Linked DNA regions of Homo sapiens. The protein of the gene in region 1 interacts with the protein of each later gene in a pairwise test. Each region holds a gene or a part of one and is shown on either strand. Other genes may lie near its edges. The genes, in order: SIRT1, ZBTB38, FOXO4, CREBZF, FOXO1, CSAG2 and RRP8.

Region 1 (3,670 bases):
CTGGGATTACAAGCATGAGCCACTGCACCCGACCAATGACTCCATTTTAATATACTATTCTTCCTCTTTCGTAATGACATGATTACCTCCATATATTGCTAAGCACACAGGACATATTTCTGGATAATTTTTATTTTCTGCCAAATTTTCCTATATTTTTTGGCAATGAACATGTATGAAATAATTTTAGATTACCATAACTAATTTAAGGTCCAAATCTGACAGGCACAAAAAGGGAGAGGAAGGAGAAAAACTACTACAACAACAACTTGCTTATGATCTGACATTTTATGTTCGGCTTAGATACTAAGAAGCCAATTTCATAATTTGAAGAGCCTTTATAGGGCTGTTTTCTATATAAGGTATTGAAAGGTTCTCGTGTATTTTACCAAAATTCCCAAATGCTAACTATTTTCTTCCTGAATCTTTCTGTACCATATATACTTTAAAGGGGTAAAAAAGGATTTTGAGGCAAAAGAAGAAATACTTCAGAGACATGAACAATTCCTAAAATATGGGCAACAAATTACCTGATTAAAAATATCTCCTCGTACAGCTTCACAGTCAACTTTGTATTTACAAATCAGGCAAGATGCTGTTGCAAAGGAACCTAAAAACAAACAACATATATATGCTTTATTAAAGAAGTATTTCTGTTTCTTGAACACACCACAAACGTTATAAAGTTTAACATCACAAATGTTAAGAGGGTTTAAGGATTTTTGTTTTTGTTTTTAACTTTGATTTTAAACCTCAGAACACACTGCAGATTTTGTGATATACTACAGGAGAATCTAGGGGATGAAGAATTTATATATTTATACATAGAATGAATATGATTCTCAATCTCTGAGACACTAATATAATGATGCCTTCTAAAGCTACTCTTTTCAACAAAACTGTAACAGCTCACTCCTCCAGGGCTAAAATCCTGCAGAGTTGGACAGTTCCAACTCTATTACCTTAGCTCGGCAGTTCTTAGAAACACTTTAGATACCTAATGGCCTGTTGATACTTGTTTTAAACATTTCTGAATCTCTGAATCCTGTACATCTCAACTATCCAGTTCTTTTAGTTTCATAAACTAAAGATGTCACATTTCTTCATTAACAGCTAATACTACTCTTGTATTCAGAATTTCTTTTTCTTTTTTTTTTTTTTTTTTGACAGAGTCTCACTGTCTCCCAGGCTGGAGCGCAATGGTGCAATCTTGGCTCGCTGCAACCTCCAACTCCCAGGTTCAAGTGATTCTCGTGCCTCAGCCTCCTGAGTAGCTGGGATTACAGGCGCCTGCCACCATGCCCGGCTAATTTTAGTATTTCTAGTAGAGTTGGGATTTCACCATGTTGGCCAAGCTGTTCTCGAACTCTTGGCTTCATGGGATCTGCCCGCCTCGGCTTCCCAAAGTGCTAGGATTACAGGCGTGAGCCACTGCACTCAGCCAGAAAAGATTATTTAAAATAATTGAATGCATGCAACTGCAGCATCTTTTGAAATCAAAAGCAAATTAATATCTGAGGTTTTCTATAATTAACTGTCAAGGCCAATACTTCTGTTTTTATTATTTTTGTTTTCTACTTTTCTGAGGTTATCGATAAATGAGATAACATGATTAAATAATGCTTTATCTCCACTTCTCGATGGCAGTCAGCTTTATAGGAAATATCTTCCTATAAAACTAAAATAAATTACAGAAAACCACTCTGAAGTTTACTAACCATGACACTGAATTATCCTTTGGATTCCCGCAACCTGTTCCAGCGTGTCTATGTTCTGGGTATAGTTGCGAAGTAGTTTTCCTTCCTTATCTGACAAGGCTATGAATTTGTGACAGAGAGATGGCTGGAATTGTCCAGGATATATTTCCTGTATCAAGCAAATGGTAGAAAAAATTTACATTAGTGAAATAAACTACAGATGTCATATGTTTAACAAAAAAATACTGATAATCCCACACACATAATTTTAAAAATGAAATAGATGAGCATTTTAAAGTATCTAGATGGATGCGACACACACCTACAAAAGGACGGTTGCTGTCATATGCATAAAACTCAGCAATTAGTGAACTTGGCCCCTTGAAGAAAAAGACAAAGTCGGCCCATAAACATCTCTAAGAAATGTTGATATTTTAATAAAAGTCAGAAGTAATACAACCTTAGGATATCTAATTTTTGTTGGCTGCAAATTCAGATTTTTTTCTTTAAAGAAAAATGGGAAAGTTTAAACTAAAATTACAGATATCAAGGTAGGGTGATTTAAAAAAAAAAGCACTGTCAATACAAGAATATTTAAAATTTTTTTTTGATTTATCATTCATTAGAATATCAACCTGCTGGAAGTTTAAAGCTAAAGTTTTAATCCTTACCAAAATTGTTTTCCTTCCACTGCACAGGCACATACTGGTATAGTATAGAGTTGCTCATGAATGCTGAGTTGCTGGATTTTGTGTGTGTGTTTTTCCCCCCAAATAATGCTTCAATGCTGTTTCTTCTTTAAAAACAAAGAATTCAGATATACACATGGCAAAAAGATCAGAGAAAAAGTATCAATTTTGGTCCTCCCAACTTTTGACAGTGTTTTTATTAAATTCCATTTAGTAAGTGACTATGGCAAAGGAAGTTTATTCTCTACTTTTTCCTTCAAAGTAGTAGTGCTATCATCTACTTACTTCCTTACCATTCATTACAGGCTCTAATCTATCACAATGCTAGCAAAAAACTAGACACAACCATATGTCCATCAATAGGGAACCGGTTGTATAAATATGGTACATCCATAATAGTGGAATATGTAGCCATTAAAAAGAATTGAGGGAGATCTAGATGAACTGCCCTGGAAAATGGTTCATGACATACGTGAAAAAAGCAAATTAGTCACCAGTATGTGTAACTTTTGTTTTTGTTACTAAGCAAAAATTGAAATTATATGCATATGTATATAGAGATGTCCATTTAATCAATCAAGTCAGGAAGGATACAAACAGGCTGTAAGCAGATGTGGGGAACTTTCACTTCTGACATTATACAAAAAAGTTTAATAGAGATTAAAGATGACTTTTTACCTATTTAATCTTTCAAATTAAAAAAAAATTCCCACTGCAACTTCTAGGTTCTACTACCCAGGCTTCTAAGTAAAACTTAAGTGAATTCCGTTAACAGCTATCACATACATGTACACATGCTGCTAAAAACCTCGTATAAAGAATCCAAAAACGTTGCCTTAGATTCAAATATTTATCACAAATTTCATGAATAACTCTTTGCAATTTAAGAAATAGAGAGTGCATATAGTAGCAAGGGAAAAGCTTAATAAAGTCAATGTTTACAGAAAATCAAAAGCCACTGTTTTGGAAAAGTGAGTTCAGTTAAATCAACCACTGTTTTCTTCCCCAGAATGCTTTGTTCTAGTACATTTACATTTGAGAGATTAAGCATTGTATGTCTCATTAAAGCTCCCTCTGGAAATAGCTTTTAGAGTATTTTAGGCACTATGAGAATATGCTAGGCAACAGATAAAATAGGACCTATAATAGTAAGCAAGTGATAATAGCATGCCAAATGCAGAATTTAAAAAATAAAATAACTCCAAAGCAAGGTCAGGGAAAAAGAGCAAGTACCAAGACTCCACCGTCCCTGAATTAACTGTGTGCCTTATCCACGTCCACCCC
Region 2 (3,670 bases), on another chromosome or scaffold:
TAAAAATCAGAAGCCAAAAAAAGACTTTAAGTTAAATTCTGGCATAGACATACTAGCTCAGAGTTTCCTAATTTTTTTTGTCTAATAAATGTTTGCCAACTGAATATTTGTTGAACTGAATGCAGCATGTCAATAGTTCTCAGGCATTAATGCAGAAGAATTGGGAGGGCAGGTTAAAATGCATATCCCCAGGCTCCTCCTCAGAGCTTCCAATACCACTGGGGCCTAGCAGCATGCATTTTAATGTGAGAAACTAAAAAAGACCAAGGTTTTGAAATAGACATTCGTACCTTTCTAGGGGCCAATTCACCAATATGCATTAGAAACTTTAAAAATAGTAGAACACTAAAGTGAATCAAAATGTCCAACAACAAAAAACTGATACATTAAAATGTATCAGTGCAATGGAAATAGAGCCATTAAAAATCATGTTTTCAAAGACCATCTAGTGATTTGGTAAAATGTTTACAACATAATGTTAAATGGGGGCAAAACACCACATAAAATACCATCTCAACAATTTTTAACATTTTGATGTATTTTTTCCAATTTTTTTCTTGTATATATTCTTCTCTCTTTTTAAAAAGGAGAGAATGGGGTGGGGTTGGGGTGAGGGGTTATACTAATGCTCTTTTGGACAAAGATGAGGGGTCCACTCTCTCCACTCTGGCTTGGAAGGCACTACCCAAGGTCAATGCCTCCGTGGAGGAGTTTCCAAGCCTCCTTATCCCAATGCACTGGGAGCCCCATAGAATGCCAGGAATCATCTTCTTTTGGCAGAGAGATGACTCATCCATCATTCCTCAAAGGTTTCAGTGAACCCCAGGTTAAATGTCCCTGTGAATAAGATCAGAAGCCTCTCCATGGGGAGTCTGGCCTACAATCAAACATGCTTTGGCTAGTTAGAAGTGATGCTAAGGCTCCCAGATGAAAGTCAATTTAGAAAGACAAAAAAATCTTTAAAATAATGATAATAACAATATCAAAAGTCAAAGCACCAATACTGACCATAATTATGATGATTATTTTTTATCAACACTTTTTTTTTTTTTTCCTCTGTTGCCTAGGCTGGAGTACAGTGGCCCAGTCGTGGCTCACCACAACCTCCGCCTCCTGGGTTCAACCAATTCTCATACCTCAGCCTCCCAAGAAGCTGGGATTACAGGCATGTGCCACCAAGCCCAGCTAATTTTTGTATTTTTAGTAGAGGCAGGGCTTCACGATTTTGGCTGGGCTGGTCTTGAACTCCTGGCCTCAAGCAATCTGCGCACCTCAGCCTCCCAAAGTGCTGGGATTTCCGGTGTGAGCCACCACTCCCGGCCTTTATCAGCAGTTTACCTTGACATGCACTTTTCTAAGTTGCCCATATCATTTTGCATATATCACCTACTTATTCTGACAGAGTCTCAGCATTACATTTTCTAACAATACTATTTTGGAGGTAGGAGGGAGCTTTAAAGTTCTGATGAAAACCAGAAGCTTCTTGAGTTAAAAACAAAACCCTGAAGTGTGGTATTTTCCAACTTGGTTCTTGACAAGAAATTAGGGGATTTCAGTGTGAGAAATTATAAAGCCCTATTACTATGAATTCTTAGTTTTGGTGAATATGATGTGGTATTTCTGCAAAACTCTCTAAGGAGAGTGACAGAACATTCATGATGCTGACCCATGGGGAGAAAGGAGCTTGCACACCTGTGCTATGACAATTCTAAAACCTCAGGGATTAAAATACTCAACTAGTGTAAGAGCTGCCTGTGTGAGACTGTGTGCTCAGTCCACATCTGCTCATCATGGCTCAACAAGGCCAGGCTCAGATCTTTAGATGACCTAAGCTCTGAAAAGACTATAGTGCCTCAAATTTGAATTATTACTCCCATGTGAAATTAAAATAGAAAAAAATAACAAAATACAAAATTAAGGTTGAGAAAGCTCAACAAAGTCTAACTTTTCCCAGGCTGTCTCCTTTGATGCTTTTTTTGAAATGTCAAATATCAAAATATTTACAAAATGTGTGTTTGTACACAATCCTGCTTTGCTGATGTTGTCTGTGAGGTCACTCAGCATCCAGTGGTCACAGGGATCTATGGCTTTCTTTCAAACACAAAGTGTTGACAGTAGTGAAATTCTGGTACCTGATGTGGTGGTCTTACTCCCCTTCCTGTAGTAATATGCAGCTAGAAATTAGAAATCAGGAGGCTGGCCCCCTCCCCCAACCCTAACACCATTCATATGTCAACTACTGCATACTTAGTGCTTTGAGGAGTCATAACAGATGGTAGTTGAAATTAGCAAGCTGTGATTAGCCATTCTCCCACATGAATGGACCCTGATGTTGACTGAGACCTTTGGCTCTGCCCTTCCTGAAAGACTCTGTTAGGCTAGGACTTCCAGCAACACATCATCCCCATTTGGCTCCAGCTTTTGAAATCTGGCACATATTCTTAACTTATTCCTTCAACTGCACCCTTCTAGCAGGCACTGTATTCCCCATTCACCTGGTCTTTTTTTTTTTTTTTGGAGATGGAGTTTCTCTCTTGTTGCCCAGGCCGGAGTCCTGTGGTGTGATCTCGGTTCACTGCAACCTCTGCCTCCCAGGTTCAAGCAATTCCCCTGCCTCAGCCTCCCAAGTAGCTGGGATTATAGGTGTGCGCCACCCTGCTCGGCTAATTTTGTATTTTTTTTTAGTAGAGATGGGGTTTCACCATGTTGGTCAGGCTGGTCTTGAACTCCTGACCTCAAGTGATCCACCTGCCTCGGCCTCCCAAAGTGCAGGGATTATAGGCATGAGCCACCATGCCCAGCCCAACCTGGTCTTATCATTAGCTTATACCACTAGCCCAGCCAGCTCCCCGATCAATAGACACTTTCAGTTCCTAACAACTTGGAAAGACAGACTTTCAGAGGCTGAAGTATTTTTGCAGCAACTCATCTTGTTATTCTATTCCATTCCTCCTCAGCTCCATCCTAATGTAAGGGGACTGGGCAGAGGCTAGGCAGCCATAACAGGAGAGTAGGCCAGGCATCAGCCTCTGTCAGATATCTGAGAAGCTGTGGCAAATTGGCCAGTAACAGGTATCCCCACACAACAGACAATACATGCTCTTCAGGGTGTGGATGTGGGTGCCAGAAAGGTCAAGTCCAGGGGCAAAAGTCAATCAGAAACCAGAGTGTTTAGTCAGATATTGACAAAACTAGAGAACTAGGTACCAGGCACCTCAGGCAAAGACTTGAGTTCATTTTTATTTCACACCTTTAAGTCTGGGGCATCACAAGGCACCCATCATATGGTTTATATTTACGAATGAGGGGAATACTTCACCAACATCAACAATGGTTAGAAGGTTACATAAAATGTTAAACTTATTAAAAGTTCTCCAAACAGAGCTTACAACTTTACCACTTATTATTTCAGTAAATGTTTTGAAACTTTTCCTGAAAATAAAAAGCTAGACATATATATCACATCTTTTGGGGTAGCATTAATAGCCCCAGCCTGAGACTTTTTAGTCTACTTTTAAATGTTTCTCGGCTGGGCCCGGTGGCTCATGCCTGTTATCCTAGCACTTTGGGAGGCCAAGGTGGGTGGTGGATTGCTTGAGCCCAGGAGTTCAAGACCAGCCTGGGCAACATGGTGAAACCTTGTTTCTACAAAAAATACAAAAATTAGCCA
Region 3 (2,761 bases), on another chromosome or scaffold:
GGTGGTGCTATCATAGAAAGGGTGGGAACCAGACTGCTGGGGCCTGGAGCCTCTAGGGGCTTGGGACACAGGCCGACGCCCGTGGCCAGCTTACTGGAGGAAGGAAGCCCCCCCAGCAACAGAAGAGTCGGAGCCTGGGACAGAATGGGATCTACCTGGGTCATGAGGACGTCAGCAGGGGGTGGTGGCGTATCAGAGGTGAGCAGGGCCTCCAGAGCCTGGGAGCTGGAGAAGCACCCTTCTCCTGCTGACAGGGGCCCCTCTGCTGGGCTGAAAAGGGAGCTGCTGTAGGTGTGTAAGGGGCCGGTAACCCCAGGATGCTGCAAAGAGAAGCCAGAGAGACCACTCCGAGATAGCAGGGAATGGGAAGAGGTGAGATTGAGCCCATCTAACAGCTCTAGACCTTCATTGAGGGTGGGAGGGACACCCCCTGCATAACTGCTGACTGAAGCTGGTATTTCCTCCGCCAGCACCTCAGACTCTGGCCTCAAGGGGGACAGCCGGGTGCTGACACTGCTGGCATTTGAACTGCTTCGTGGACGGAAGGTGGTCCACATATCGGCTTCTTCACGGTTTCGAGAGCAAGGGCTGCCTGACCACTTGGCAAAGTGGCCGACAGGGCTCGTTGGAGTGGCACCTTCGGGTGGAGCTGGCAGCACAGATGGTTTCTTCTTGGGGGCTTTACTGCGGCCCCGGAGCAGCTTGCTGCTGCTATCCATGGAGGCGGCCCGGCGGCGGGGGGCTTTGCCGCTCTTGCCTCCCTCAGGGTTCAGCATCCACCAAGAGCTTTTGCCGGTGGCCTCGTTGTGAACCTTGATGAACTTGCTGTGCAGGGACAGGTTGTGGCGGATCGAGTTCTGGAGGGGCAGAGATGGCAGGAAAGGGGCGTGAGGTACTGTAGGGGAGGTCAGTGGCCAGCGGTCAAGTCTAAGAGGATGCTGGACCCTGATGATCTAGGGTTTAGGATTTGGTGCCACCACCGCAGCAGGGTTCATTTCGGGGCTTCATTTCCCAGGTCATTAAAGTTTAAGAAAAACTTTAAATAATTTACAAAAAAAGAGAAAAAGATAAAAGATAAAAGGGTGCTGGAACACAGCAGGGGTATTCCTGGAGACTCAAAGAAAGTTGAATCCAGGGGGGAAAACTGGTAGAAGTAGGGGTGGGGGTGGGGTGTGAGGGGAGACCACACACATTTCCCGCTCCCAGACAAGCTGCTCAGCCTCTGCTCCAGACTTCTCTGTACAGCGGGTGGGAGATAACGTGTAATAATCCACTGCAGAGAGCACGGGGGATGCCCACCCTGGAAAAGCTCCTGGTACTCTGCTCTTCCCAGGGCTTCGTGTGTGTTTTGCGGGGGGTGGGGGGAGCGGTACCTGGGGCTGGTGGGCACTGGGGAGACGTGCTCCTTGCCCAGCAAGAACTAGGTTCAGGTGGGAAAGAGCATTGCACCCCTTTCCTTGAGTGCAGGTTTGGGTAGAGTTTACGGGACAGTGGTACAGCACCAGCCCAGGATGGACCCGCCCTGCCCAGAGCCAGTTCTCTGAATAGGCTGAAGGGCTGGAATCTCAGCACAGCAGGTGCTCCATTCCCCACAGAGCATTTGGGCCACCCAGCTCTCTATAGAATTTAAAGATTCCTTTTTCCCCCCTCCCTGAATCCCAGCCTTATTTCTTCCAATCCACAACACACATCCTCAACTACATTCAGTTCAGGTTCAGGCTTCCTGCTGTGCCTCAAATGCGTGAGGTGCAATCTTCCCCTCCCCTCTTTTCCGAGGAGGGATCTCCCCTCTCTAAGTTTTACTAGTTCCGTCAAGACCAAGCTTCAGTTCCACCTCTTTTATAAAGCGGCTGCTTGACTTTGGCAGCCAAATTTCTAGTATAGTATTTTTAAAATCTGCGCCACACAATTTCACCCAATTTATATTGTGTGGCTTATGGTTTCATGTAATTCGTCTCATCGAGTGTAAGTGCCAAGTGTAATGTCCTCCAGTCCCACATCCCCCATCAAAGCCCTCCCAGAGCACCAAGCTCACAGCACATATTCTATACCTACTCAAGCTCACAGTACATAATCAATATTTGTACCTGATTGGTGGGTTGCCCCTGGGTTGACAATGGTGAGGCTCCCCTTGAGGCTCTGCCAGCTCTTCAGTGCCTTGGGTATTGGAAGCTGTATGTTTTCCCTTCCTCCCTCACTGGTGACATTCTACTAGGGAAACGATGCTTTCCAGTGGCCCAGGGAGCTGAGATTGGCAGCTTCTTCAGCCCCCAGTGCAGCTTATATTTACTGATTGCCGCGGGGCAGGCTAGTTACACAAGGGGTTTGGCCCTCCCCTGGCCACCCCCCTTCCCGAAACCTGCCTTCTTTTCCCTACCTCCTTCCCAGTGCCTTTCCCCCATTTCTCAGGAATTTGTGCATAAACTCTTCAACCTTGGGGGCATTTGACCTCCCACTTGGAGGTCTTTAGTTTAGAAATTCAGGAGGAGCCCAGAAGTGCTTAGAGCAACTAGGAGGCTGAGTACATGGGACGGTCAGAAACTACTTGTTTCTCTGACTGGTGCTCTTAAGATAAGGAGCACCTTTGCCTGGGGAATGATGCTTCTTGTTCCAGGGTTCTTTAGCCAAAGAACTCCTTGTGTTCCTGGGACCCTGAGGTAATGGCATTTCAACTGTGCTGATGTTCCTTCAAGGAGTGGCACTTGTCCATCCGGCCTCACCTCATAGTAACTAAGGACCACAATGACCATGACCTGGCACT
Region 4 (2,331 bases), on another chromosome or scaffold:
TGGCATATGGTTGTTTTAATTGAAATATTTTTTCAGTTTATTACAAGTGTGAAAAAACACTCAAAACTCTGGATTGTTTTATTTCATTTTTGTTGGATTATGTTAATACATTCCTTCACGTGGTTTAGATTGAGTCATTTTATCTCACTTACTTGGAAATGTGCAGCTGATAGAAGAGGGATTGGGTAGGAGATTGGCTTTTACTTCATAATAAATATACAGTTGGTTATTGTATTATTCAAAACTTATTAAATCCATTCAGTTTCTTACCATTTTAAGTGTATTCAGTGCCTGTGAAGCCAGGCAGCAGAGTATTCCCACTGGCTTAAAACTTAGGCGCTGATGCTCCTACAGTACAGCTAGTTATAATTCCAGAACCAAAGGCACCAACATTATTTGGTGACCTTAACTACTACTTTGATAGAACAGACTGGGTAATTCACTGATAATGAGTCATTACCTTTTTAATATGTGATTATCTAGTTCAGCATTTTGAATGTGTAGTTTAAGGTCTGATTTAGTAAAATTTTAAAGCTAAATAATCTGATGACTCTTGAAAGTTTAATTGGTAGTATGACATTTATGTTTTTTTCCCCCAGACTCACAGCCAATACAAAGTTTTGAGACTCCTAAATGTTAATATTTTTGCTGTTTTTCTGAGCTGTTTTTTTATTTACTTACCACCTAAGCTGCGGATCAAAAAGGGAATTCTTCCATTAGAAATTTGTAGTGTTGTGTGGCCAGCACAGTATTTTTCAGATTTGAATTTCAGTACCTCTGTGTAGCCTCAGTACTCTCAACACCAGTCACTCTTTATTGTCTTAAAATATTCCATACTTTTTGTTGACCCAAAATTGTTGAAAATATTTTGCTCAGTTTTCACAATGAACTAATTGAAAAGTGTAGTTACTGTGTTGTAAACATTTGTGTAGTTCTGTTAATACACTGATTTGAATTTTATTTATCTCAACTTCCTTTAGCGTCTGCCTCCAAATTTTGTCTTTGCTGTATACCCACTGAGATCAATTCCCTAGACCCCTCTGGCTCTTAGTGTACTATAATTTGGGCTTTATAAAATATATTGTCTTAATTTAAATAGAATGTGAGCCCTCTTTTTTTTTTTTTAAGCCAAATAACTACACAAAGTAAATTATAAAAGATTTAAATAGTTTGTCTACAGTGACTAGACTGAAATATAAAAATTGATTGAGGGTAGTTTACTTCAGGTGTTAGCTACAAATGACTAAATGTCCTTAAATAATGCAGATATCTGCCCTCTGAACAAAAATTTTGGCAAAGTAAATTTGTAGCAACAGACTTAACATGATTTATTGCTTATGTTGCCCATTTCTGCTAATGGAAAAGATAATTTAAAAATATGTGGCAGAGGACAGATATTAGAAATACTTTTTGGTTACAGAAACCATTGTAAACTCATCCTCATTTATAAATGGTATTATGCTAGGGAGTAATTGGACTAGGAATGTTTAAAGATAAGTAAGGAAACAATGTGTGCTCAATCGTCAAAGAACTTAGTTATATCATTGGGCTTTGAATTATCTAAGTTGATTACATAATTCTATATTCTTAAGGAGTCTTAACTCGGTACTTGGGTTAACGCCAGAAATTACTTTTAATTCATTGTTTTTTTCACTGGGATGAGTAGAACTCTGCTTTTAGTAAAAGTGACAGAATATAGGTAAAATGGATGATTTGGGATCAGAGCTTTTCATCTTGATATTTTAGCCTGTAAAATAAACAGCTATATTGTTTTGCCCTTTAAATGTTATATATATTTTTCTGTCTTTCTTTCCCTAGTTGTAAAAGTAAAGCATATTCTTTATAGAAAACTTGGAATATCCTGAAAGGAATCAAGAAGAAAAGAAAAATCACCCTTATAACTCTATAAGCCATAGAATATCCACAGTAAACATTTTGGCATGCTTCCTTTCAGTCTCTTGTGCACATAGATTCTTTTGCCTCATAACTGGGATCATTTTTTATATAAGTTTGGTAGATAATATATTTTATGTGCCTGTTGAAAGAACAAATCATCTTTGCTTTCTGAAAAATTGAGATTGTATTTTATTAATTTCACATGAGTTTTTCATCTTTGGCAGCACAGCTTTATGTTTTTCTTTAAACAGAAGCTAAAGGCCAGTTTCACTCACAAAGATGCCTTTTCTAAATTATAATTTTAAGTAGCATAAGATGACTTAACAGATATGTCACTATTTGGAAGTAATAATTAAGAGATTCATGAATAATCTTGGATGCCACTTAAAATTTTGTTTGGTACTTTTCTGTGATGATTGGCTTGCTTCATAAGTG
Region 5 (3,670 bases), on another chromosome or scaffold:
ATATCCCTTAGGCATCAAAATACATACTTTTTCAAGTACATGTGGTCTTCTGTTTCACAGCTGAGGAACACCACCAGAAGCATCAGAATTCTTTATGTACCAAGAAAAGGTGCTTGGTTATATGACCCCAGGGAGATCCTGGGGGGGCTGGGCAAGTCTCTGCAAGTTGTTGCTACAAAGGCAAAGGCAAATCTTGAACTGCAGGGAAGCAGACCAACTCCCACACAATTGAAAATTCTGCCTTCCCCAATCACTATGTGGTATTTACACTGCCTTTCCAAGAGGATCCCCAAAAAGCCCCAAAGCTACAGCACATATAGGCCAAAAAAATGGCTGGGTAAATTCCCATGATGCCAGGGAACTGGGTAGTTTCCAAGGGCAGAGTGTTCCAGAAAAATGCAAATCATTCAGGCTTCCCCAGAGAAATTCCAGCCAAATACAGCTGCTATCTTAGAAAGCCTAACACAAAACTGCAGTTTAGATGCTTGGATGAAGGGGCTAGAAGCACAAGGACAGGCAACATGTTTACAGTCTGCAAGGCATTCTAACTTGCCACTGAATATTCTTCCCCCTCATCCCATTTCGTATCGCCTCGGAGAAGATTCCTTGTGTGTGCGGAGCATGAAATCTATGTGTCTGCTGCTAATGTGATACCTTTTCAGCAATTTTGGGATCTTGAAGACCTTTAACTTTTTTCAAGTTTACATGAGAATTAAAATGCCTTATTTTCAATAGTCAAGTGTTTGTCACTTAAAAAAAACTAGTCCATGAGCAGTGGCTCGTGCCGATAATCCCAACTATTCGGGAGGCTGAGGTGGGAGGATCACTTGAGCCAGGGGCAGGCAGAGGTTGCAGTGAGCTGAGATCAAGCCACTACACTCCAGCCTGGGCAACAGAGTGAGACCCTGGCTCAGAAAAACAACAACAACAACAACAACAACAACAACAACAACAACAAAAATGAGAATCATTCAAAAAGAGGCCACTCTTCTCGCCATCCCCTCAACCAAGGACATGCCACAAAACCATGCGTAAAAAGTAAAGCTCTTGGGAGTCTGAAATGAAGTATTCCAATTTGGCATCTATTTTGGAATTTCTGAACAAAATGTTTTAGCTCTCAAATAGATTCAGGTAACTTTCAGCCCTTAATAAGATGCTACATTTAGCTGCATAACCCCCTCATCCATTTTAAATTATTTCTTCATTATCGCTTCCCCAAGTACATATACAGGATTATCAAGGCTTTCTTCTTTTTTTTTTTGGAGACAGGGTCTCCCTCTGTTGCCCAGGTTGGAGGTCAGTGACGTGATCTCGGCTCACTGCAACCTCCGCCTTCTAGGTTCAAGCGATTCTCCTGCCTCAGCCTCCCGAGTAGTTGGGATTATTGGCACGATAGCTGGGACTACAGGCACCTGCCACCACACCCGGCTAATTTTTTGTATTTTAGTAGAGATGAGGTTTCACCATGTTGCCCAGGGTGGTCTTGAACTCCTGAGCTCAGGCAATCCGCCCACCTTAGCCTCCCAAAGTGCTGGGATTACAGGTGTGCGCCACCACGCCCAGCCTATCAAGGCTTTCTTTAAGGTAATTTCAGTGACAATCCAGAAGTAGGAAAGATGTCTCAGATCCTCTAACCACTCGGTCTCACCAGGATTCTCTAAGTCAAATGTGACCATGCAACAAAAAAGCAGCCATCTTTCTAACGGGATCTCTGTGGCTGGTTCAATTACTCACCTATAGATTATACCCAAATTACAGAATATTTATTTCAAAACATAAGGAAATCCACTGTCAGTTCATAGGCCAAATAAGAAACATCACTCCCAATTAAAGATTTATCTTAAAAATAAAAAGCTTTGGGGCCAGGCACGGTGGCTTACGCATGTAATCTCTGCACTTTAGGAGATCAAGGCAGGCAGATCACGAGGTCAGGAGTTCGAGGCCAGCCAAGCCAATATGTGAAACCCCCTCTCTACTAAAAATACAAAAATTAGCCAAGCATGGTGGCACGTGCCAGTAGTCCCAGCTACTCGGGAGGCTGAGGCAGAAGAATTGCTTGAACCTGGGAGGCGGAGGTTGCAGCAAGCCGAGATTGCGCCACTGCACTCCAGCCTGGGCAACAGAGTGAGACTCTGACTCAAAAAAAAAAAAAAAAAAAAAAAAAAGATATTTATCTTTAAATCAAAGAGGATACCTCTAATAAAACAATCTAAAAATTTATTTAACAAGAGTTAAGTGGTATAGTCAAAGTCATTCTTTTAACCTAAAGTGTTCCTAATAATATCAAAAGAGTCAACTCAAAACTGCCATTTATTAAAAAAAATCAGAGTTCAAACTACCACTTCCCAAGCTTTAGAAGGCTTTCTATGTGAAAAAACAGGTCATGGAAATGAAGTTTCATTATTTATAAATACTGCACTAGATTTAGAAGATCCCGGGTTTTCCAAAAGTCTTAGGTTCCACTTTGTGTGTGACCTTATAGCAATTCTAGCCAATATTACAACAAGTGTAAGACATTTAACATACCATCCCCACAAACACAAAATGCATATCCTTCAAATATAACCAGCACTTAACTATCTAAAGAATGACATTAAAAGTTTTTGAATTCATTAACAGTTTTCCAACTAGTTTGTCCTATGCAAATGACTCAAACTTTCAGGCAGGCCCCAGGAAGCAGCACACAAGAAACTATTTAATTAAAGATTCAGCCTAATTCCCAGTAGTAAATCACAGGAAATATTTTGTGCCAAAGCAACCTCTCCTCGGTCCTAAAACAGTTAAGTTTTGGTTGCTTTGCATTTAAAAACTGGATTTAAGTTAAAATTCATAGTAAAATTTCTCTTTTATGACTCTTAGAACAGGAGTCTTTCAGATCTGAGAGTGAAACTTGGTTTTAACAAGTAACTCATTTTTATGAAACTAACCAAAAGACTAGTTATGAGTTAGAACAGCTCAGGTTGTTTCTTTTCTTCTTAAAATACCCTTTTACTCAAACTGAAAATGTACTTGCTGCAATCAGACTTAAACCAACTGACATTACACCTGAAACACTTACTCATTTGAGAAAGGCAGCCTACTCCAAAGCAAAGCCCCATTAGGCTCCCACTGGGAGCTGCCCAAGGGCCTCCAATTCCAGACAGATAACTTAACAGGTCTCCTAGCTCTGGCAAATAAATTTAAAAAAAAACTAAATTATTCTTGCATTTTTAAAAAAATCAGAACAAGAACCTGATAAAAATGGTTGTAAAGATGATTTAACATCAGAATCTATTTTTTAAAAACCTAAATCTTAAAAAGTGTAAGCATATTCCTAGTTTAAGACTAACACTCTGACAATGCCATTTGAGACGCAAAACTAAAAATATCCCAAAACACTTCCTTTATCTTTAAAGAAAGGCACTCCAGCAAGTTGAAGTAGGTTGTATCCATTTCCAAGGACTAAAGAATGGTGTAAGTACACACTGTACTTTGAATGCAAAAAAAGGGGGGAGGATTTTTTTTTTAAATGGCTAATACTCTGTAACAGCTGAAGTGGAATTGATAGATGAGCAAGTAAGTCAAGTACTTAAATTCAAATGTTAAGTAAAACAAGATTTGGCAGACAATTTCGATTTTGTGACTTAATAGAATATATGCTGAACTTAACGGTAAGAAGGCACTTTACTTT
Region 6 (3,157 bases), on another chromosome or scaffold:
CGCATTCAACAATAGCAGAATAAACAATCCTCTCAAGTGTGCATGAAATATCTCCCAAGATAGATGGTATTCTGGGCCATCAAACAAAGCTTACAAATTGAAAAGAATAGAAATAATAGATAGCCTCTTCTTAGGCCATAATATAATTAAACTCAAAACCAAACACCAAGATATCTGAAAAATGCCCAAATATTGGAAATTTTAAAATAAGCTCCTATATAACCTATGGGTCAAAGAGGGAGTCCCAGGAGAATTTTAAAAATACATTAAGTTGAATGAAAGTAAAAATGTACATACAAAAAGTGGGATTCTGCTAAAGTGTGTCCTTGAGGGAAATATATAGCATATTTTAAATGTTTATATTAGAAAATGAAATCTAAAATCAATAACCAAAAGTTTCACCCTAGGAAACCAAAGAACGAAGAGCAAGTTGAATTAGAGAAATTGTAGAGGATGCCCCCCTCCCTTCCCACACTCCCACCTCTTTCCCCTTACTCCCTACCCCTACCATTTGAGACACACAGACACACACATCATTTTGCAACATGTTCACTTTATTTTCATCACCATGGGGCACACTCTTTGGGGTGTAAAATGTACTCTACACCCTGTTGGCTATTTATCTGGGGTTAGACCTCTGGAGACTTTTCAGATAGACTTGAAGTCTCTGGCCTTGCCCGGGAATTACTGGCTGTCCGAAGAGAGACTGGAGAAGGTGGTGGTCTCCTTGCCCTTGTGGTCCCGCTATGGCTCATTTTGATTGAGTTCCTCGTTCGGCTGGTCAGAGTGGCTGGATAGTGTTGGCCCACTCCATTCCTCAGGTTTTTTTGAAGCGGCGGTCTTTTAGGGAGAGCCTTTTGTTCCTGGAACTTCCTTGATGGGTCCCTTTTCCCTTCCGGGTTGTCTTGGGAACCTAGAAGGAAACAGGGAGATCAAAGAAGGGCACTGGTTTGGGGAAGAGGATGGAGGAGGGGTGAGAACAGGGGCTTCATAGAGAAATGGTGCAGGCTGGGGTGGGGGTTGTGCCAGGGGAGGACAGGGTAGGAGTCAGAGCTTGGGTGGGCCGTTCACTTTGATAGGGCTTCTGGGCCAGGGTTGAGAGGATGCCTTCCACTTCCTCGCCTCTTTGGTGTTGGTGGGTGGTTGTTGGACAATGGGCTGGAGGCTCGTGGTTTCCTGGACATCTTCACCAGACCAGTGTCTCTCAACAGTCTACTCCAGTCCACCTGGTCTCTCCAAGCCTCCCCCAGGACAGTGAAGGCAGGCCAGCAGGCTAGAAACTCACAGCGCATTTTTATGTTAGTCTTGTGGTAGAATTCCTTTTCCAGGAAACCTTGGTCTTTTCTCTTAACACCTTCAACTAATTGGATGAGGCCCATCCACATTATGGAAGTTAAACTGCTTTACTTAAAATCAACTGATTGTAAATGTTGATCACATCTACAAAATACCTTCACAGCAACATCTAGACTACTGTTTGACCACACAGCTGAGCAGTATAGCCTAGACAAGTTGACACATAGTACTAGCCATTGCACATATCTTGCACCATACAGAAATGTAACTCAAAATGAACTACAGACTTTAAATGTCAAAATTACTTTTTTTTTTTCTAGGAGGAAACAAAAAAAAATTGTGTCACCTGAAGTTATGTCTTAAGTCAGCTCAGGCTGCCATAACAAAATGCCATTGAGTGAGTAGCTAAAACAACAGAAATTTATTTTTTTTCTCACAGTTTTGAAGTCTGGAAGTCCTAGATCAAGGACTGGCGGGGTTGGCTTCTGGTGATGGCCTTATTCGTGGCTTGTAGATGGCCCTTTATTAATCTGTCCATTCTTGGCCTTTCCTCTGTGCATGTGCAGAGAGAGAGAGAAAGAAAGAGAGAGAGAGAGAGAGAGAGAGAGAAAGAGAGAGAGAGAGAGAGAGAGAAAGGTCATGTAGGCACAAAAGTACTTTCTTCTGTCTCTTCTCCCTTCTTATAACCAAACTAATTCTATGGGATCAAGGTCCCACCCTTATGGCCTCTTTTAACATTAATCACTTCCCTAGAAGCCTCATCTCCAAATACAGACACCCTGGGGCTGAGGGCTTCAAAATATGAATTTGGTGGAGGACATAAGCATTAGCAAAGAATAGACACACAGATTAATAAAACAGAATAGAGCTCAGAAATAGACCTGCACGCATATAGTCAGGTGATTCACAACAAAGGCAATAATGGTGAAAGTACAGGTTTTCCAACAAAAGGTGTCGGAACAATTAGACACCTATACACAAATTATAATAACCTGGACATATCCTTACATATTCCATGAAAACTAACTCAAGATACATCATAGGTCTAATGAAAAATGCAAAAACAATACAACCTCTATAAGAAAACATAAGAGAAAATCCACATAACTTTGAGTTTGGTGATGAGTTTTTAAATTCAACACCAAAAGCATGATCAAGGAAAGAAAAATTTGCCAAGTTGATTTTATTAAAATAAAAATCTTATGCTCTTCAAAGGACAATGTTAAGAGAATGAAAACAGAAGCCACAGACTAGCAGAAAACATCTGCGGTACACATATGTGATAAAGAACTTGTCTCTACAATATATGCGAATTCTTAAAGCTCAATGATAGAAAAAATGAAAATAGTCAAAGATCTGAACACACACTACACAAAAGAAGATATACACATGGCAAATAAGCATAATAAAAGTACTGAGCACCCTTTGGCATTAGATAATTGTGTACTAAAATGGGATACCACTGCACACCTATCAGAATGTCCAAAATCCATAGAAAACCAAAACAAAGAATACAAGACCAAGAACAATTGCCAGCGAAGATGTGGAGCAACGGAAACTCTCCTTCATTGCTGGTAGAAATGCAAAATGGCACAGCCACTTTGGAAGGCAGTTTGGCGTTTTCTTAAAAAAATGAAAATAGACTTAGCACAAGATTCAGCAGCCATACTCAATCAATTTACCCAATTGATTTGAAAACTTATGTCTACATAAAAATTTGTATATGAATGTATACAATAGCTTATTTCATAATCACCAAAAATAGAAGCATCCAAAATGTATTTCATTTGGTGAATGGATATATATATATATATATATATATATATATATATATATATATAACCAGACATTGATACTACTC
Region 7 (3,193 bases), on another chromosome or scaffold:
TTTTTTTTTTTTTATGGGAGGATGGGCAGGTTGTTAGCTGTCGAGTGCTATTGAGATGAGAGAGAACTCAGAATGCAGTGGGGTAAGGATTGCTGAGTAATGTGGAGGGCCTGTTTGAGGTAAATGGCAGTGGTAAGAGGTTGCTCCATTATGAAAGCCCTCTTCCAGAGTTCCTGATAGGGCCCCAGAAGTTCATTTCTGATTGCTTTGATTTTTTTTCAGGGGAGCAGGAAGCCAGTTTATCATTTGAGAGTGAGAATAGGGGAGAGGAAATATCTTCCAGGCCCACAGTGCATAGAAATACCCAGTCAGGGCAAAATGATTTATCTGTTTACCTCTCCTCATCACTTGGGCCCAGAGCAATCAGCAGTGATTAGGTAGAGAGGAGCCGAGCAGAGGGAAGAGCATACCAATCACTCCTCCCTTTCCCAGTGCAGGCTCCTAGACTTAGCTGGGGCAGAGCTGGGAGAGGAAAAAGGGATTTAAAACTGCAACAGGTGCAGATTATTGTTACACAGGATTAGACATTCTAATTAATTGAGATTATGTTTGTTCCTTAAACTGATCACAGGACTATCTATTAAGAACATCACAACCTCGCTGCAGCTTTTCTCCATAGCAGGGAGAGTACCTCCCAGTGAATAAAATTTGGAGGGTGGTAAGAGACAAGAATAAAATTGGGTTTGGTTATCCGTGCCTCATGCTTGTTCAGCATCCCTTTGAGAGTTCTCCAAATAAATAGTTACTGCTTCTGCAGTTATTGGTGTGCTCCAGCTTCTGTTCCCATAATATAGTCCAGTCCTAAGGGAACACAGTTCTAAAAGAAACAACATGATCTTGGCAGAGACACCGCTCAGCTCCAAACCCAACCATTTATGTAACTGCACAAAACTCTCTACAGCTTTTCACAGAGACCAGTAATTAGAACCTTTCATCCCCTGGTCATCCTCCTTCCCAGGTGAATTCTCTGACCAGCCATCTGGTTTTAGGATACCCAACTCCTGCAGTAACTGCCTTACTGGTGGTCTAATTGCTTCTACTCGTGTCCCTAAAGCAATTAATTTTCCACACAGCCATGTGATCTTTTTAAAATGTAAATCAGCTTATGTCACTTCTCTGCTTAAAATCCTTCAATGGATTCTCACTGCCTCGAGAACAAAAGACAAACTTTTCAGGCCCCGTGTGATCTTGCCCAGGCCTCCGTCACCATCACCATCTGCATCTTAACCCACTCCTCCCCTTTCACAAAACTCCAGCCACACAGACTTGCTTTTTATTCCTCAAGCTTTCCAAACTGTTTCTACTGAGAGTCTTTGCACATGCTCCATCTTCCTTGAATACTCTTTCCCCAGTGAGCTCATTTTCATCTTCCTGAATTCATACCACTATTACCTTTGCTTCTGTGGAAGAAACTGGCCAGATGCTCACCCAAATGTCCTCTTTCTGGACACAGGTAAACTGCATTTCCCAGCTCCATGCATCTAGGCCTATGTGAGTAGTTCTCAACAGTGGAAAATGAGTGGAAGTGATGTTTCAATACTAGACCAAGGCAGTTAAAGGGTGGCTGAGCCATTTCCATTATTCTCTTCCTCCTTCCTCTTCAAGGTAACCTTGAAGCACATGTTTTGACGGTGATGGAGTCATAGCATAGAAGAAGTCTGAATACCTGAGTTACTATTTAGGGCATAATAGCTACTTGACCAAAAACATCCATATTGGACTTTGAACAAGAAAATAAACTTGATTACATTCTGCTAGTGAGTTTTGAGGGTGTTTTAGCAGTTATCATTATATACACTGGATATATCTTCTATGGTATCCTGTCCACCTTACTCTTGACCACAGTACCCTCTTTGTTTCCTTCAGGGTGTTTCAGATATTTAATTATCTTGCCAGATGCCAGTCAACACTTTCTTTTTGTCCCATGAGTTTAAAATCAGGGGAAAACATGTACTCCCAATAGGAAGTTGAGATACTCTTTTTTTTTTAAATCCGTCATTGTGACTGTGACCGGAAAAACAAATCCCACTAAAGAATGTCCTAAACAGATGTTTTTTTTTGTCATATAACCTGGAGTTAGGTGATTTGGCATTGGTTCTGGAGCTGAAGGATGTTAGGGATGAGGTCTCTGTAGTTTTCTTGTCTCATGGTCACGAAATGAAGTGTTATTGATTAAGCAGGGATGCCCTACTTAGTATTAGACTTCTTGGAAGTCTCCTTAATTGCCACAGCCCCTATCTTTTTGGCTTCGTTTCAAGGGTCCTTCTACATTGTTAATACTCTGGTATAAATACGTTCCATTATTCCCTATAACATGACTGAAACCAATCTAAAGTATTAACATTTTAAATATGTTTTTGGGCCAAGTGCAGTGGCTCTTATCTGTGATCCCAGCTACTAGGAAGGCTGAGGTGGGAGGATTGCTTGAGCCCAGGAATTTCAGGCTGTAGTGAGCTATGATTGTGCCACTGTACTCCGGCCTGGATAACTGAGATCCTGTCTCAATAAATAAATAAAACAATTATATATATGTATAATATATAATATTATATATACATATGTATGTATGATGCTTTTCATCCCCACCCTTTCCCACATCTCAGGAACCTGTCAGCAACTTATCCAGTTTAAAGCTGCTGTTCCTCTACCTCAGTGGTTTGGGAGAACATGGTCATTATTTCACTCATTCTTTACTTCCTGTCTCTTCTAGGATTGGAATGGGGGAGGGCATATTAAACGAAGAAAGTCTCAGCTTACGTGATTAAGGTACCATTGGTGTGTTCTGTGCAGACAGGCATTTAACTGTTGACTCCTTTGTGAGCTCTTGGGGTTCTCTGGAGCTCTCCATGAGGACTGGGGCACTAACTGACTTTGGTTGCCTCTTTTTGATGCACAGCCCACACTGCCCTTCAGCTCTTCAGCCCCTGACCCTGACAATGTACCCACAGCCTCCTCGTGCTAAAGTGCTTCACCCTTGTACGCAGCTCTCCTGGGAATGGTCCCAACAAACCCTCAAGACTGGTTACCTTTCATGGAACCCACAGGAAATGCATGCATATTTGTCCTGCCAAACTGGAAGTGCAGCCCAGCCAGCAGCTTGCTTTTCTCACCCTGCCTTGTCGCAGCCAGCCTGACTCTTACTTATACATCTGAGAAGTGCCAGTCTCTATAATTCACATGGCTCCAAATCCTC

The links.
Region 2: the proteins of SIRT1 (region 1) and ZBTB38 interact in binary tests that used the Homo sapiens proteins (3 or more experiments, as listed by UniProt).
Region 3: the proteins of SIRT1 (region 1) and FOXO4 interact in binary tests that used the Homo sapiens proteins (3 or more experiments, as listed by UniProt).
Region 4: the proteins of SIRT1 (region 1) and CREBZF interact in binary tests that used the Homo sapiens proteins (3 or more experiments, as listed by UniProt).
Region 5: the proteins of SIRT1 (region 1) and FOXO1 interact in binary tests that used the Homo sapiens proteins (3 or more experiments, as listed by UniProt).
Region 6: the proteins of SIRT1 (region 1) and CSAG2 interact in binary tests that used the Homo sapiens proteins (3 or more experiments, as listed by UniProt).
Region 7: the proteins of SIRT1 (region 1) and RRP8 interact in binary tests that used the Homo sapiens proteins (3 or more experiments, as listed by UniProt).

Annotation. Positions count from the first base shown.
Region 1 is NC_000010.11:67,904,986-67,908,655, reverse strand, and holds part of SIRT1 (NAD-dependent protein deacetylase sirtuin-1), read right to left. Parts: intron 2,494-3,670; exon of another isoform or gene 2,402-2,493; coding exon of another isoform or gene 2,369-2,401; intron 1,867-2,368; coding exon 1,719-1,866; intron 611-1,718; coding exon 531-610; intron 1-530. UniProt on the Homo sapiens protein: NAD-dependent protein deacetylase that links transcriptional regulation directly to intracellular energetics and participates in the coordination of several separated cellular functions such as cell cycle, response to DNA damage, metabolism, apoptosis and autophagy.
Region 2 is NC_000003.12:141,371,500-141,375,169, reverse strand, and holds part of ZBTB38 (zinc finger and BTB domain-containing protein 38), read right to left. Parts: intron 1-3,670. UniProt on the Homo sapiens protein: Transcriptional regulator with bimodal DNA-binding specificity. Binds with a higher affinity to methylated CpG dinucleotides in the consensus sequence 5'-CGCG-3' but can also bind to E-box elements (5'-CACGTG-3').
Region 3 is NC_000023.11:71,098,780-71,101,540, reverse strand, and holds part of FOXO4 (forkhead box protein O4), read right to left. Parts: intron 858-2,761; coding exon 1-857. UniProt on the Homo sapiens protein: Transcription factor involved in the regulation of the insulin signaling pathway. Binds to insulin-response elements (IREs) and can activate transcription of IGFBP1.
Region 4 is NC_000011.10:85,657,443-85,659,773, reverse strand, and holds the end of CREBZF (CREB/ATF bZIP transcription factor), read left to right. Parts: 3' UTR 1-1,784; downstream 1,785-2,331.
Region 5 is NC_000013.11:40,660,032-40,663,701, forward strand, and holds part of FOXO1 (forkhead box protein O1), read right to left. Parts: intron 1-3,670. UniProt on the Homo sapiens protein: Transcription factor that is the main target of insulin signaling and regulates metabolic homeostasis in response to oxidative stress.
Region 6 is NC_000023.11:152,707,728-152,710,884, forward strand, and holds CSAG2 (chondrosarcoma-associated gene 2/3 protein), read right to left. Parts: upstream 1,547-3,157; 5' UTR 1,386-1,546; coding exon 1,072-1,385; intron 914-1,071; coding exon 844-913; 3' UTR 534-843; downstream 1-533. UniProt on the Homo sapiens protein: Drug-resistance related protein, its expression is associated with the chemotherapy resistant and neoplastic phenotype. May also be linked to the malignant phenotype.
Region 7 is NC_000011.10:6,594,405-6,597,597, reverse strand, and holds the end of RRP8 (ribosomal RNA-processing protein 8), read left to right. Parts: 3' UTR 1-2,526; downstream 2,527-3,193.